Linked DNA regions of Homo sapiens. The protein of the gene in region 4 interacts with the protein of the main gene of each other region in a biochemical or structural test. Each region holds a gene or a part of one and is shown on either strand. Other genes may lie near its edges.

Region 1 (2,488 bases), on a different chromosome or scaffold from region 4:
AGCATCCACATACAGTCAGAGGTGCTGAAAGAAAACAGGTCGAAGCCCTGGGTTGTGGAGAGGCGGGCCAGCTCCACAAGCCTCTCCCTCAGTGTCCTCATCTTCACGCCTGAATGCCGAGTGAATTAAATGAGATAAGATATCCACAAGGCCCTTAGCACAAGGCCTGGCACATAGCAAACACTTAAGAAACATCGGCTGGACGCAGTGGCTCACGCCTGTAATCCAAGCACTTTGGGAAACTGAGGCAAGAGGATCACCTGAGGTCGCAAGTTCGATACCAGCCTGGCCAACATGGTGAAACCCTGTGTCTCTACCAAAAATACAAAAATTAGCCGGGTGTGGTGGTGGGCAGCTGTAATCCCAGCTACTCCGGAGGCTGAGGCACGAGAATCTCTTGAACCCAGGAGGCGGAAGTTGCAGTGAGCCGAGATCGTGCCACTGCACTCCACCCTGGGTGACAGCGCAAGACTGTCTCAAAAAAATAAAAGAAAGAAACATCAGCTACCATTGTTTTTATTGTTACTGAGGCTGTCAGTGCCGCCTGGAAGCACTAACACTTTTTCCCATTTCCTGCCTCAGCCCATTTCACAGGTGAGGAAATCTGAGGCTCAGTGAGGGACTTCATTCCCTTCATCTGGTAAATTCCATTTACAGGGGTGGGGCTGGGTGCTCTATCGGTGCCTGGCTTCCTCTCCCAGGGGTGCAGTAGGGGAGAGTCCATTCCCCTGTACCTCATTTAGCCCCAGGATTGCCCTGCCCAAAAGATGACACTCCTGCCCCCAGTGTCCTGGATGGGAGGCCTCCCAGCCTTCCCAAGCAATGGCTGTAATCCTGTGGGTACAGAGTCTGGCTGGGGATCCTGCTGCTCTGCTGGGAGGAGGAGTCTGCCTTCATGGGAGACTCGGTCCCTGCCCCATCGGTACCGGGTGCCTGGAGTCCACCTGCCCCTCACGGAGAGATTTCTGGCCTCTTGTCCTTGAACTCTATTCTGTCCTGCTCCTGGCTCTCCAGCGGCTCCAGGTGGCTGTGCTTGTCCTGGACCATCTTTCCCGGAGTCTTTAGAAATCTAGAATTCAGGCCCCAACTGCAAATCAGCTCCTGCCCCAGCTGCAGGGGGATTCCAGCCCACCCAACCCCAGTTCTGCTTCCCCTTTCACCACATCCCCTAGGCCACTCACCTGAACAGGAGTTTCTGCCCCGGTTCCTTCTTAATGATATTAAGCTTATAATAGTGGCGCAGGGCACGAGACATCTTCTCGTAGGTCATGTTCACCCGGTTCTGGAAAGCAAAGCAGCCCCACATCAGCCCCACTCCCCATGTCCTGCTCCTTCCACACCTGGAAGGGAGTAGGGTGGACTGGACAGCTTCTTAAGCCTCTCATTCCAGGGATCTGTGAGGGTTTATGAGTGCTCACTTGAGTTTGGAAGGAAAAAGGCAGGGGAAGGTTGGGGAAGAAATGATGGGGCTGGGCAGGGTGGCTCACACCTGTAATCCCAACACTTTGGGAGGCCTAGGTGGGCAGATCGCTTGAGGTCAGGAGTTTGAGACCAGCCTGGCCAACATGGTGAAACCCTGTCTCTACTAAAAATACAAAAATTAGCCAGGCGTGATGGTGCGTGCCTGTAGTCCCAACTACTCAGGAGGCTGAGGCAGGAGAATCCCTTGAACCCAGGAGGCAGAGGTTGCAGTGAGCCGAGGTCATGTCACTAGACTACAGCCTGGGCAAAAGATTGAGACTCCATTACAAAAAGAAAGAAAGGAAGGAAGGAAGGAAGGCGAAAGGAAGGAAGGAAGGAAGGAAATGATGGAAAGGTTCTCCTGCCTACTTGGCTGAGAACATAGTGTGGGAGTGAACTGCATGTTACTTTTAAACAGCAAATGTCACAACAGTAACAAATAAATATATATATTTGTGGGAAATGCAATCAGAGAGACAGTATGGTGGGGTGGCATGGATGGCCTTGCCAGGCCACACCCTGGGTGACTTTGGCCAAGTCATTTCTTTCTCTCTCGGGGGTAGGCAGTGTGAGGTAGGGCCAAAGAGCCTGGGGTGTGGCATCAATTTAAGCCCCAGCTCCACCGCTTGTCAGCTGTGTCACCTTGGACAAGTTTCTTGACCTCTCTGAGTCTGCTTCCCCAGCTACATAATGAAAAGGAGAACACCCATCGCATAAGTCAAGGATTAAATTATTAATAGCTAATCCATGAAAGCAGTTAGCACAGTGTATGGCATGTAGTATATGCTCATTAAATGGGACTGCTGCTCTCTGGGCCTGTTTTCCTCCCTGTTCTATATGAGGATTAGACCAATAAGTCCTCCCGAACTTTAGTCATCTGCATCCTTCCAGCCACCAGCACTGCTAAGAGCAGTATAATATAGTGCAGCACATGGCCTGGGTTCAACTCCCTGTTCTGCCTCTTACATAGCAGGGGATGGGTAAACTTGGGGCAAGTTGTTAGCCCTCACTGAGCCTCAGTCTCCAC
Region 2 (3,500 bases), on a different chromosome or scaffold from region 4:
CGCTAGACTTAGAATGGATATAGGTGGTTTGTAAGTGCCTTCCAGTTTTGAAATTTTATGATTTTGTATCTTTATCTATAGGTGTGAGTTTATATGTGCCCTATAGCACTGTATGTAATTGAAATTTAAAATATTAGGGCGCTCTGTCCCTTTCCTAATGATAAGCTAATATTGAAGCTCTTTAATTTGTCTGGGGTTTGAGGATTATCATAGACCTCTCTTCTACCACAGAGCCTTCTCTTTTTAATTGTTCTCCTGTCTTGCCTGTTGAATTGAATTTGTAAGGTTAGAGATGGCAAGAGCTACTTCCGGTGCTGCTTTATAGCTTACTAGTGATGAGTCTATAGTTGTGCTCAAATAGGTATTGGGTAGCTTATGCTTTCTAGTTGACTTCTTTTTGGGCACAAGAAAATGTGTGTAAGATGGATAACTGAAAACCTAGAGGCCCATTCTGTAAAAGAATGGCAATTTGGAAGAAGAACCACGACCTCAGTGCAGTGCTCCGTTTTGGTAATCAAGCTCTGACTCCCAAGACACCATCTGTAAGAGACTATAATTTAAAACAAAGTTGATGAACCAGTTGAGTGCCTTTCTTAAAATTACTGTTGTAAAGTAGATATGTTGAAAATATCAACTGCTAATTATTGGCTCACCAACAAATGGCATGATTTGTTTTTCCTGTTTGTCATTCTAATATTATGGAATAATCACTGAAATATGAATGTTAAATGATTTGCATGTCATAGAATTCAATTCCATTAATTTTCCAAATTAATTAGATTCAATAATAATATGTCCAAAACAATGAGCCTCTGAATAAGTCTACTAAAGCTTTAAATATATATATTTATATCTCAAGACTGCTCTGAGATACTCTTGTCCCCAGTAGTTTTACTGCCAACAAATACCAATAATGACAAACGGTGATTAAAAGGGCAGATAGATGTAAATGAAGGCAGAGGAGGAGGATGAAATGAACATCTGCTTTTTTCAGCTCTCTGACAGAAATTCTTAAAGGACCAAAAATAACACTCTTGTTTCAACTTATGTTAGGTGTAGGAAAATTTTCTTTTTTTCTCTTTCCAGTCTGAGTATGCTTCATTGATTTGTATATTGAATACTAAATTGTTTTAGAAAAAAAAATCATTGGCTGATAAGACACTTAAATGAGAAAAGCTAGTCTGTCACAGGCATGTAGGTGTGCCATATCTATTTAAATAGAGGTTTAAATTATTGATGAGACTTAATGAGGAACTGGTGTATATTGTAACCAAAATTGTAGATTCCACTGTGAACAATCTGTGCATGGATCGATTCACATATTTGAGTCTACCATTTCAGGTACATGAATGTACAGGAGCTACTGGGAATATAAAAACTGGAAAATAAACATTATCATCTATTACCACTCCCTCCTCCTTGGTCCATTTTAGTAAAGAATTCAGTAAAGTGATAGGTAGGCTATCTTGAATGAGAAGAAAATAAAACTAGGAAAGTGAGAGAATAAAAACCAAAACAAAACTGTAACTGCAAACTGTTGTAAAGGACTACTCACAGAGGAGTTCTATTGAATAGTGACGAATTGCTTCCTGATTCACGGTTGGTGATTTTTTTACCCCTTCAAAGAGAAATTTATTATTAAGGAGGAACTGGTATAGTTAACATGTTTCTTTAGCAAGGCCCCACAAAGTTAAAATGTGTGATGCATCCAGTCTGAGGTCATTTCCTCAGATCTTAGAACCTACAGCTTTCCTCCGTATAAACTTAATTTCAAAGGAGGGCTTTTGGCCAGGCATGGTGGCTCAGCCTGTAATCTCAGCACTTTGGGAGGCCGAGGTGGGAGGATCGCTTGAGTCCAGGAGTTTGAGACAAGGCTGGGCAACATGGTGAGACCCCTTCTCAACAATAACAACAAAAATTAGCTGGGCGTGATGGTGCATGCCTGTAGTCCCAGCTACTCAGGAGGCTGAGGTGGGAGGATCTCTTGATCCCAGGAGGTCAAGGCTGCAATGAGCTAAGATCAAGCCACTGCATTCCAGCCTGAGTGATAGTGGGAGACCTTGTCTTTAAAACACACACACACACACACACACACACGAGGGCCTTTGACCACTCTTGAGTAGAAGACTCGAGAAGAACAAAGTAGAAGGCCAGAGAAGAACAAAGTTACTTGAAAGATCTCTTATTAAAGAGAATGTACAAGCTATGAAAAAAAAAAAACACACACACACACACAAACCTCATCTGGAATGAAAAAAACATAATGCATTTGGTTTCTGGTTCCTTAGGCTGTTATGGAACAACCAAAGAACATTATTTTGGTTTCTGAGGTCAGAACTATTTTATTCCCCTCAAGCACACTATGCTTATGGTTTGAGGGAGAATGAGAAATAGGAAACTAGGAACAGGCTGAAATGGTCTAATCTTGACCATCTAATTCTGCAGTGTCTTATTCTCATTCTAAAAGAGAATGGTTATATTCGCTGTTCTAGCATAAAAAGTAATGATAAAAATAAAAGATCCCGTATTACCAGACAATAATCCCCTAGACTGTTTTAATGCTTGGTTGAGTATTTGCTTATGATCTCAGACTTTAAAAGATGGTCTCCCCCTATGGTGAAGCTTGTTAATTATGTAGGCATCATTAATGTCTGTTTACTTATCAAAATTTTATCATTGTTAGTTGTATTACTACTTGACAGTCCAATTTATTTAATTGAAAAGATTGGTTAACATTTTATAGTCAAAGTAATTGTTTCCTGTGTTTTTTCCTGTTTAGGTTATTGGAGTGATGAGTAAAGAATACATACCAAAGGGCACACGTTTTGGACCCCTAATAGGTGAAATCTACACCAATGACACAGTTCCTAAGAACGCCAACAGGAAATATTTTTGGAGGGTAAGTAAGGGAAATTTCTTCAGACCCATTAAATGTTAGGAAAAAATGGAGCTAAAAGAGCTGGGTGGCTCACCTTTCTCATCCTGTGCTGAGAAATGCTGGGGCTCACCCATAAGTATCCAGCATCCCCATGGACACAGGGAATTCTGAACAAATGTGATGAAACCGATGAAATGTCTGGCCTGTAGGTGGTTAGTGATGGAGATACGGGCTATATGTGAATCTTGATTTTTGCAATTCATTAGAGCTTTGTAATGAAAGGAAACAGTTTGTTGCTTGCTTTAAGGATAGGTTCATTTGCATTTCTCCGCAAGGAAGTAGTAATGAGTTACCAAGCCTTAGATTTCACCCCTTTTTGATTTCTTGCTGACTTAACTTTAATTGAATGGAAGAGTTATCACAAATGAATTATCTTTTTGGTTTTTTTTTTTTTGAGATGGAGTCTCACTCTGTCACCAGGCTGGAGTGCAATGGCATGATCTCGGCTCACTGCAACCTCCGCCTCCCAGGTTCAAGCAATTGTCCTGCCTCAGCCTCCCGAGTAGCTGGGACTAAGGTGCGCGCCACCATGCCCAGTTAATTTTTGTATTTTTAGTAGAGA
Region 3 (3,500 bases), on a different chromosome or scaffold from region 4:
GCCCAAAATGTCTATAGTGGATTGAGAAAAATCTTATTTACTTTAATGATGATGAAGATGATGAAAGCTCTTTAACACGCATTCAGTCAACAAATAGGACATTTAAAAGTCATCATCTGTAATTTTGGCCACATACGTAACATAGCATTCATGAATTTTCTCTTTCTCTTTTTGGTCAGTAACATGCAATAATAGAGTGACATACGGATGGTGACCTTGTGATGGTGTACCCTTTATGTCCTGAATTAGGCCATCCATCTCTGAAACTCTGCAAGTATAGCATCTTCATGCACTTGGTACCAATGCTGTTGAGACCAGAATGGCAGTAGTCCAGATAGGGGAGAGCAGTGATTTGCCAGCTCCATTTGAGTTTTGAAGTTAACCTAAACATTTATTAAAGACCTCCTCTTTTTCTTATATAAAAAATTAAATAAGTCAAAAGTGCTAATATACAGTACATGTAACTCTGAGGTCATATATTAAAATTTATATTTGTAATAACTTTTTGGAACTTGAATCTTTTCCTGAAATTGGTTTTAAAGGACTTCCAGGCAGTGTATGTAAATTAAAATATTCCCTTCTTAGCTGTCAGATATTGGATTTTGTGTGTTCTGTGGGACCCAATTATATTTATATATCTATCTGATTCAGAAGACCAGTATGGTGCTGTGAAATGTTGCAAAACATGACCTGATGACAACCCAAAACACTTCATAGAAAACTATCCAAGAATGTGACTTCCTGGAGTAGAGTCTTTTTTCACTGAGGGTGAGTTGCTGCTTACTAATCGTTAGTTTTGTTGCCTTCCAATTCTAAGGAATGACTCAGTCATCTCCATGTTTCCCAGACCTGGACTTCCTCATGAAACTTTATTTTTTTAATTGTTTATGTTGCCAGGGCTGGCCTTGCACTCCTGGGCTCAAGTGATGCTCCCACCTCAGCCTCCGCAGTAGCTGGGGTTACAGGTGTGAACCTCTGTACCAGCTGTCTCATTAAAGTTTAAAAGAAATGGGCTGTCTGTCCATTCTGGCTTTGTTCTGGCTGTAGAGCCCAGATGACTGTCTTCTGACCCTTTCCTAAGGTTCTGTACATAAATACGCAGATGAGAGGGGAAGGGGACTCCATTTTTGTTAGATTTTCTTGTATGTTTCAGGCAAAAGTTTTTTATGTCCTGGTTATCTTTAATTCCTCTTTGCCTGTATAGATCGACTTATAACACACTTTGAGACCATGCTAGCAGAATAGTATCTTCTAAAGGTTGGTTGTTTTTTTTCCTATTGTAAAAAATATTAATGTGAATTGCCTTACAAAGATACAGAAAACTGCTATAAAAAAATAGACATCTCCCATAATTCCACTGTTTACCTTTTGATGTGTAATTGTTCAGTTTTTTAAAAAAATGCATATGTGTGTCTATGTATATCCACACATGCACATACCATTTTTAATTGAAAGCACACTGTACTTACTGTTTTATAACTTTTTTCACTTAACATGTAACACATTTTAATAATTAGTACCGAGACCGAAATTATCACATAGAGCTTCTATTTATTGATCTAATAAATGTGTTGGCTCAACCATGGATTGACATAATTTCTTCATAGACTTGTTCAGTGTTTTTTGTCCTCTGTGGTTCAAGTAATGTTCTAAGAATGCTGCCCTCTTGAAAGACTGAGTTCCTATGTGCTGTGAAATTTTGGATTTTGATGAGTTTCTCTGTGATTTAAGGATGAGTCATGATTTGCAGTAGAATATCAAGATGTAGTAACAGGAAGTACAGGGCACTACACATGAAAATAGAATGTTAAATGATGAAGAGAAACCAGGTTAAACTGAAAATATACCTTGAAATTATCCAACTATGAAGGGAGAGGAAGGTGTGTTTTGTACATTTTAACAACTCCTATTACTGTTTCATTTTCTATCAGTGGAGTTTCCAAACTTTGAAGTTGGTGTTTTAAATTGATTTTTAGCTCAAGATTGCTGTTGTTCATAGCCACTTTGAATTGAGGTCATTCAGCCTTTTGATTGAAACCATGGCAGTGAGACCATGAAAACTCTAGTTTTGCCACTTATAGAGCAGCCCCAGTAAATAAAATTAGCTGTGTGTGTGTGTGTGTGTGTGTGTGTGTGTGTGACCTTCTGTGAAATTCTAAATGTCTTCAAAAATGGTAGATTACTCAGTCTTTTAAATAACTATTCTGTGCAGAAATTCAACTCCCCATGGTTCCTGCCTGAAACCAAAATAAAAATTGCCTTTCATCCATTACTGGAGATTTACATATATGTCAGCAGTTTTAAAGTAAACTTTGAACTAGTCATTTCAATAAATTGTGATTTGGTTTGAATTCCCACTAGGAATAAAGTCATTGACTACTTTATTGCTATGTATTAATTTACATTTCCTGGAAAGTACTACTTTTTTCTAAGAATTAAATAAGATTATAACATGGCTTTACTTGTATATTTTTAAAGAAATTTAGACAATGTTATATTAGTGTATTCTAATTTGAATTAGACTGAAATGAATTTACTCACACACTCTAAAACAAGGATCTATTTATGACACATAGTGTCATAAATATGCTTAAAGTTTCTATAGCTAAGAACAATTTCTGAATATCCATGTGTAATATGGGAGTGATGGGATAGGTATAAAACACTTATCTAGATACCTTCTCTTTTTATTTTTTAAATTGATATAAATGTACATATTTATGGGGTACATAGTGATTTTTTACATATATATCATGTATAGTAATTAGATCGAGGTAATTAGATCCATCATCTCAAATGTTTATGATTTATTTGTGTTGGGAACATCCATTATCTTCCTTCTAGTTAATTGAAACTATATAGTATTATAGGCATCCTGCAGTGCTATAGAACACGAGAACTTACTCCTCCTGTTGGAGACCTTCTCTTAAGACTGATGAAGCTAGGGCTCCTGTACTCCAAGCAATAGAGTAAAGAAAACGAGGCTCTTGGTATCTTCCCCTCTCTCTTTTTTTTAAGTTGAGGTATGATTTACATATATTAAAATGCGCAGATCTTAAGTGTTATTGTATACATACATGTAACCCTACCCAAAGAGACAATATTTCCATGTCCCCAAGTGTTTTTTGGCTTATGTATTTAGAGACAGAGCCTGGTTCTGTCACCCAGGCTGGAGTGCACTGGCACTGTCATAGCTCAGTGCAGCCTCAAACTCCAGGGCTCAGGTGATCCTCCTGCCTCAGTCTCCCAAGCAGATAGGACTGCAGGTGTGCACCACCACACCTGGCTAATTTTTTTTTTCTTTTTGAGACAGTGTCTGGCTCTGTTGCCCAGGCTGGAGTGCAGTGGTGCAAGCTTGGCGCACTGCAACCTCCGCCTCCTGTGTCTAAGCAATTCTCATGCCTCAGCCTCCCAAGTAGCTGGTATCATAGGCATATGCCACCATGCCTGGCTAATTTTTGTATTTTTAATAGAGACGGGCTTTTGCCATATTGGCCAGG
Region 4 (5,393 bases):
TCCCCCAAGGCCCAGCCTGGTCTGGGGTAGCCAGTGGGGTGGGCTGGGGGACTCAGAAGGACCCTGAGTGCCCCATGCAGGAGCCTCCCACCCAAGTCCTGGCTGCCTGACTCAGTTTCCCGAATCACGTCCCCTCCGTTTCTCTCATCTTGGTCTCTTTTTGTCTGTCTTTCTCTCTTTCTCTCTGTCTTGCTCTGACTCTGTGTGTGTGTGTGTGTGTGTGTGTGTGTGTGTGTCTGTTTCTCCCTGTCTCTCCATCTCTGTCTCTCCCCGCCTCTGTTTCACTCCCAGTCACTGTTGGTCTCTTTGTGTCTCTCTTTCTCATCCTCTGTCTCTCTGATGTCTCAGTCTCTCCCACTGTCTCTGTCTCTTCATGTCTATCTCACCATCCCTTTCTCCTCTTTGTCTCTGCATGTCTCTTTGATGTGTCTCTGTCTCTCTGTCTCTCCCTCCCTTTGCCTTCTTTGTGTGTCTGTCCGATGTGTCTCTGTCTGTTTCTCTGTCTCTGTCTCTCTGCCCCCTTCCTCTCTGTCTCTGTTTCTCTCCAATATGTCTGTCTGTCTCTTCATCTCTGTCTCACCTTCCCTTTCTCCTCTGTCTCTGCGTGTCTCCCCTTGCCCCCTCTCTCCCTGTCTCTCTCTATCTCTGCATGTGTCTCCTTACTCCTCTCTCTCTGTCTCTCTCTGTCTCTGGGCCTCCCTCTCCCCCTTTTCCCAGCTAATTTTACAACCTGAGCCCAACCGAAAATAGCTCCCTTTTAGCTGATCCGACCCGGATCCTTCTCGGGAGCCGAGGCTGGCGGGGGGTGGGGGGCATCTCGGTGCCAGCCCGCTCTGTGCCACCCGGGCCCGGCCCGCCGAGTGGGGAGTGGGTGCTGGCGGCCCTGGGGCATTCTGGGAGCCCCGGGCCGGGCTCAGCGGTGACTCAAGCGCTTTTTCACTTTTACTCTTAAGAGGAACTGTGTGGAGCCCATGGCTCCCATAAATCCTGCCGGCGGGAAGGCCGGCCTCCCCGCGCCTGCTCTGGGCCTCCCTCCCTGCCTCCCTCCCGCTGGCGCCACCGCCACGTTAGTTATTCCGGGTTTGGGGCCAAGTCCCTCTTGGCCGCAGCGTGGCGGATTCCCCGAGCCACCTCCATCCCGCCACCGGGTCCCTGTCTCATTCGTTCGTTGTTTCCTTCATTCGTTCGTCCCATGCCCTCTCGGAGCACAATGTGCTTTGCTGCCATTTCTCCAGCAGGGTAACCGAGGCTGGGAGAGGCTGTCCTCCCACCCCAGACCCCCGACCTTTGTTGGATTTTCTAGATCTTCCTTAAGCATCTCCTGGGCCCTGGGGATAGGTGGGGGTGGGGGAGGCAGCAGGGCCCAGGCCCAGTGTAGGTTCTTAGAGGGAGCTTGGGGGGTGCCTACCAGGAGCAGGGGGCCTGCAGCCCCTCAGTGCCGGGAGAGGGGCTAAGAGTCAGAGAGGGCCAGGGCCTGCCCGAGGTGGCACAGTGGGGCTGGCAGAGCTGGGGTTCAGGCCATTTTCCATCTGGCGGCTTGGGCAGGTGGGCGCTCTCTCCCCGTGTGCCCCCCACCCGGGGCCTGGTGGCCTCTGATTCACTCTCTACAAGGCTCCACCACTCTCCCGCTGTATCTCCCTCTGGGTCTCTCTGTGCATCTCTCTCTGTTTCTCCCCCTCCCCTCTCTGCGGCGGAGGTGCCTCTGCGCGCCAGGGCCAAGCGCCCTGTAAATCACCAAAGCTGGGATTCTGGCAGAGTCAGCGTTCTCCTCTCTCTCTCTCTCTCTCTCTGTCTCCCTCCCTTTCTCCCCCCATCTCGCTCTCTCCTCCTCTCTCCCTCTCTCCTTCTCTGTCTCCCTTTCCGTCTTTCCCTCTTCCTTTCTCTCTCTCTCCCCGTCTCCCTTCTCTCCCTCTCTCCTTCTCTCTTCTCTCTCTCTTTCTCCCTCCCTACCTCCCTCTCTGTTCCTCTTCTTTCTCTCTGTCTGTCTCTTTCTTTCTCCCTCCCTTCCTCTCTCTCTGTTCCTCCTCTTCTTTCTCTCTCTCTGTCTCTCTGAGCTGGCCTCCCTCCCTGTCTCACACCAAATGGATGGGAAATGCTGCCTGGGCCTCCTGCCCCGGACACGGCCCGCCCCCCACTCTCCTGCCTGTGTCCACGCCGACCTCACCTGGGTGCCCATCTGCCCTGAGCACACAGCGTGCGGGCACCCAAGTCCTGACCAGTTCACATCCATGAGCACACGCTGGGCGCACACGCGTGCACACTCCCTGACACCCATACGGACGAGGACACAGCTCTGCCTGCCTCGGATCTGCCTTGATGGGGGTCACCAACACACAGACCTAGAGTGCCCCTCACATCTGCCTGAAAATCTTGCTCAGGAGGTGCCAAACCCAATATAGTACCTGGTATAGAGAAGGTGCCAAATAACTGCTATAGAGTGGTGCCAAATAAGTGTTGCTGTGCTTGTGATTGTTGCTAAACTAATTCTCCTCTTTCCTGACTCTGGTGGGTGACCTGCCCCCACCCCCGGACCGTTTCTTGCCCTGAAATGAAGTCAGCAGAAACCCCCACTTCCTCAGGGCTGCTGCAGATTCAGGGAGGCAGCACAATTTTTTTTTTTTTTTTTTTTTGAGGTAGAGTCTCGCTCTGTCGCCCAGGCTGGAGTGCAGCGGTGCGATCTTGGCTCACTGCAGCCTCCGGGGAGGCAGGACATTTCTGAGGTCCACAGTGCAGGGCTTGGTACTCAGTAGGTGCCCAATAAATACCTGTTGCACGAATGAATGAATGAATGAATGAATGAATGAATGTTTTTGGTTGAGAGGCGGGACTTTGGTCTTCCCGAGCCTCCATTTCTCCGCCAACATAAAATAAAAAACATAATGGCACTTTCCTCAGAGACATCGATGTACCTTAGTCCGACACCTGGTATACAGTAGGTGCCAAATAAGTGCTGCTGTGCTTATGGTTGTTGCTAAACTAGTAATTGCATTGAACACCCCAGAGGCATTTTCCAGTTTCCCTCCCTTCCCTCTGTGTGTATTTGCGCAGCGTAAGCCCAGCTTTGGGCTGGGTGACAAGGACAGTGGTGACCTGGAAAGGCCCAGGCTCAGACCCCTCTCTACTGTGGCATTTCTGTTAGTTTTTCTTTTCTTTCTTTTTTCTTTCTCTCTCCTTCCTTCCTTCCTTCCTTCCTTCCTTCCTTCCTTCCTTCCTTCCTTCCTTCCTTCCCTCCCTCCCTCCCTCCTTCCTTCTTTCCTTCTCTTTCTCTCTCTCTCCCTCTCTCTCCCTCTCTCTCTCTCTCTCTCTCTCTCTCTCTCTCTCTCTCTCTCTCGGAGTCTTGCACTGTCGCCCAGGCTGGAGTGCAGTGGCGTGATCTCAGCTCACTGCAACCTCCGCCTCCTGGGTTCACGCGATTCTCCTACCTCAGCCTCCCAAGTAGCTGGAATTACAGGCACGTGCCACCACGCCTGGCTAACTTTTGTATTTTTAGTAGAGACGGGGTTTCACCATGTTGGCCAGGCTGGTCTCAAACTCCTGACCTCAGGTGATCCACCTGCCTCGGCCTCCCAAAGTGCTGGGATTACAGGCATGAGCCACCGTGCCCGGCCTCTGTTAGTCTTTTCTCCCTGCCCAGCCCTGTCCAGGGTCTCCCTGAGTTTGACCAGCCCTGTGTGGGTACCAGCCTTCCTTACACATGGGGGTGCATGGATAAGGGGGGTCCCAGAGGCAGAAGATGGGAGCATTGCTTCAGTGGTCTGGATGCTGGAGATGCTAACAGATCAAAGCTGTGCCCTTGTGGGACCGACAGTCTAGGCCGGGTCGGGGACGGGCAGGAAACGAGGTGACCAGGACTCCTTGAGGATGTGGTGTGCGACCGACCTCGGGGATCAAACAAGGGGAAGGGAACCACGTGGGACTCGGAGAGTGTGCACGGTGCAGACCAGGTGTCACTGGACGCTCTGGCCCGAGACTGTTTGCTCAAGGGGCCCAGGAGTGGGGTGGGGGGGTGCCAGGAGGCCCAGGGACCAGTCCCAGCTCAGTTCCTCCCTGACTGTGTGACTTTGGTGGAAGATTTCATGCCTCAGTCTCCTCCTCGAGGTAGTGGGTGCAATGATAGTCCCCACTTTCATAGTAGACTTTTTTTTTTTTTGAAACAGAGTCTCGCTCTGTCGCCCAGACTAGAGTGCAGTAGCACAATCTGGGCTCACTGCAACCTCCGCCTCCCGGGTTCAAGCGATTTTCCCGCCTCAGCTTCCCAAGTAGATGGGATTGCAGGTGTGTGTCACCGCACCTGGCTAATTTTGGTGTTTTTAGTAGAGATGGGGTTTCACCATGTTGGCCAGGCTGGTCTTGAACTCCTGACCTCAGGTGATCCGCCCGCCTCGGCCTCCCAAAGTGCTGGGATTACAGGTGTGAGCCACCGCGCCCGGCCCCTATTTCGTAGTAGACGTGATAGCTCAGCAAACGCTCAGCCTGTAAGAGGCACAGCCTCGCTCCCTGCCTCTCTCCTCCACCTCCTGGCCCCTCTGGCTCAGCCCTCATTGTCCTCCCAGAACATCAAGGCACAGAGGGAAGTAGGGGACCCAGGGTTCATTTTGCTGACTCACTGCCTTGGCAGAGAGTTTGAACCCTGTGGACTCAGTTTACCCAAATTCCTCACTGTGGCCCACAAGGCCCTGCCCAGCCTGTCCTTGTCCCCTCCTCAACCCTCCCCTCCTCTCTCTTTCCCCCTTGCTCATTCTGCTCCAGCCACATGGGCCTCCTCGCTGTTCCTCTAACACGCCAGGTGCGGTCCTGCCCCAGGGCCTTTGCATGACCCATTTCTCCATCAGAAAGCTCCTGGCCTGGAGTGCCATCTCTCAAGACTTTGTTCAGGTGTCTCCTCCTGCAAGAGACCTTCCTGGACCCCCCCCCCAAGCTAAAAAACACCCCCCACCCCAGAGATTCTCTGGTCCCTCAAACTCTTAAATTTCTTCAGAGCACTTTGCCCAACTTGACGTTTTATTACATATTTTGCTGATTTTAACCATCCGTCCCTGCCCCAGATCTGGATCCAGGTGAGGGCCGAGCCCAGGTCCCTGCCAAGTCCTCGGCACCCTACCTGGGACCGGCATGCAGCAGGCACTCACTAAATGTTTGCTGAGCAACAGAATGAATCTTCCCTCTCTGGGAGCCGTTCACATGTCCACAGGCTGTGATTTTCTGAGCCAGGGGAAGGAGCGGCCCAAGGTTAGAGCCTGACGCTGGTGCCGGATGGGCCTGGGGTTGTCCGTGGGACCATGGACAAGTCATCCGACCCGGAGAAGAAGGCATTAGAACTAAGGCTTTGAAGGATGCGTAGGAATTTGGGATAAGTGCTAAGTAGGTAATGAGCTAGATTCTCATGAAGGATT

The links. The genes of interacting proteins can lie anywhere in the genome.
Region 1: the proteins of NFIC (region 4) and ETV7 form a complex in vitro, tested with the Homo sapiens proteins (one study listed by BioGRID).
Region 2: the proteins of NFIC (region 4) and PRDM1 form a complex in vitro, tested with the Homo sapiens proteins (one study listed by BioGRID).
Region 3: the proteins of NFIC (region 4) and ELK3 form a complex in vitro, tested with the Homo sapiens proteins (one study listed by BioGRID).

The regions. Positions count from the first base shown.
Region 1 is NC_000006.12:36,365,694-36,368,181, forward strand, and holds the end of ETV7 (transcription factor ETV7), read right to left. Parts: intron 1,283-2,488; coding exon 1,182-1,282; intron 1,070-1,181; coding exon 952-1,069; 3' UTR 501-951; downstream 1-500. UniProt on the Homo sapiens protein: Transcriptional repressor; binds to the DNA sequence 5'-CCGGAAGT-3'. Isoform A does not seem to have a repressor activity. Isoform C does not seem to have a repressor activity.
Region 2 is NC_000006.12:106,092,836-106,096,335, forward strand, and holds part of PRDM1 (PR domain zinc finger protein 1), read left to right. Parts: intron 1-2,779; coding exon 2,780-2,899; intron 2,900-3,500. UniProt on the Homo sapiens protein: Transcription factor that mediates a transcriptional program in various innate and adaptive immune tissue-resident lymphocyte T cell types such as tissue-resident memory T (Trm), natural killer (trNK) and natural killer T (NKT) cells and negatively regulates gene expression of proteins that promote the egress of tissue-resident T-cell populations from non-lymphoid organs.
Region 3 is NC_000012.12:96,197,375-96,200,874, forward strand, and holds part of ELK3 (ETS domain-containing protein Elk-3), read left to right. Parts: intron 1-651; exon of another isoform or gene 652-768; intron 769-3,500. UniProt on the Homo sapiens protein: May be a negative regulator of transcription, but can activate transcription when coexpressed with Ras, Src or Mos. Forms a ternary complex with the serum response factor and the ETS and SRF motifs of the Fos serum response element.
Region 4 is NC_000019.10:3,368,713-3,374,105, forward strand, and holds part of NFIC (nuclear factor 1 C-type), read left to right. Parts: intron 1-5,393.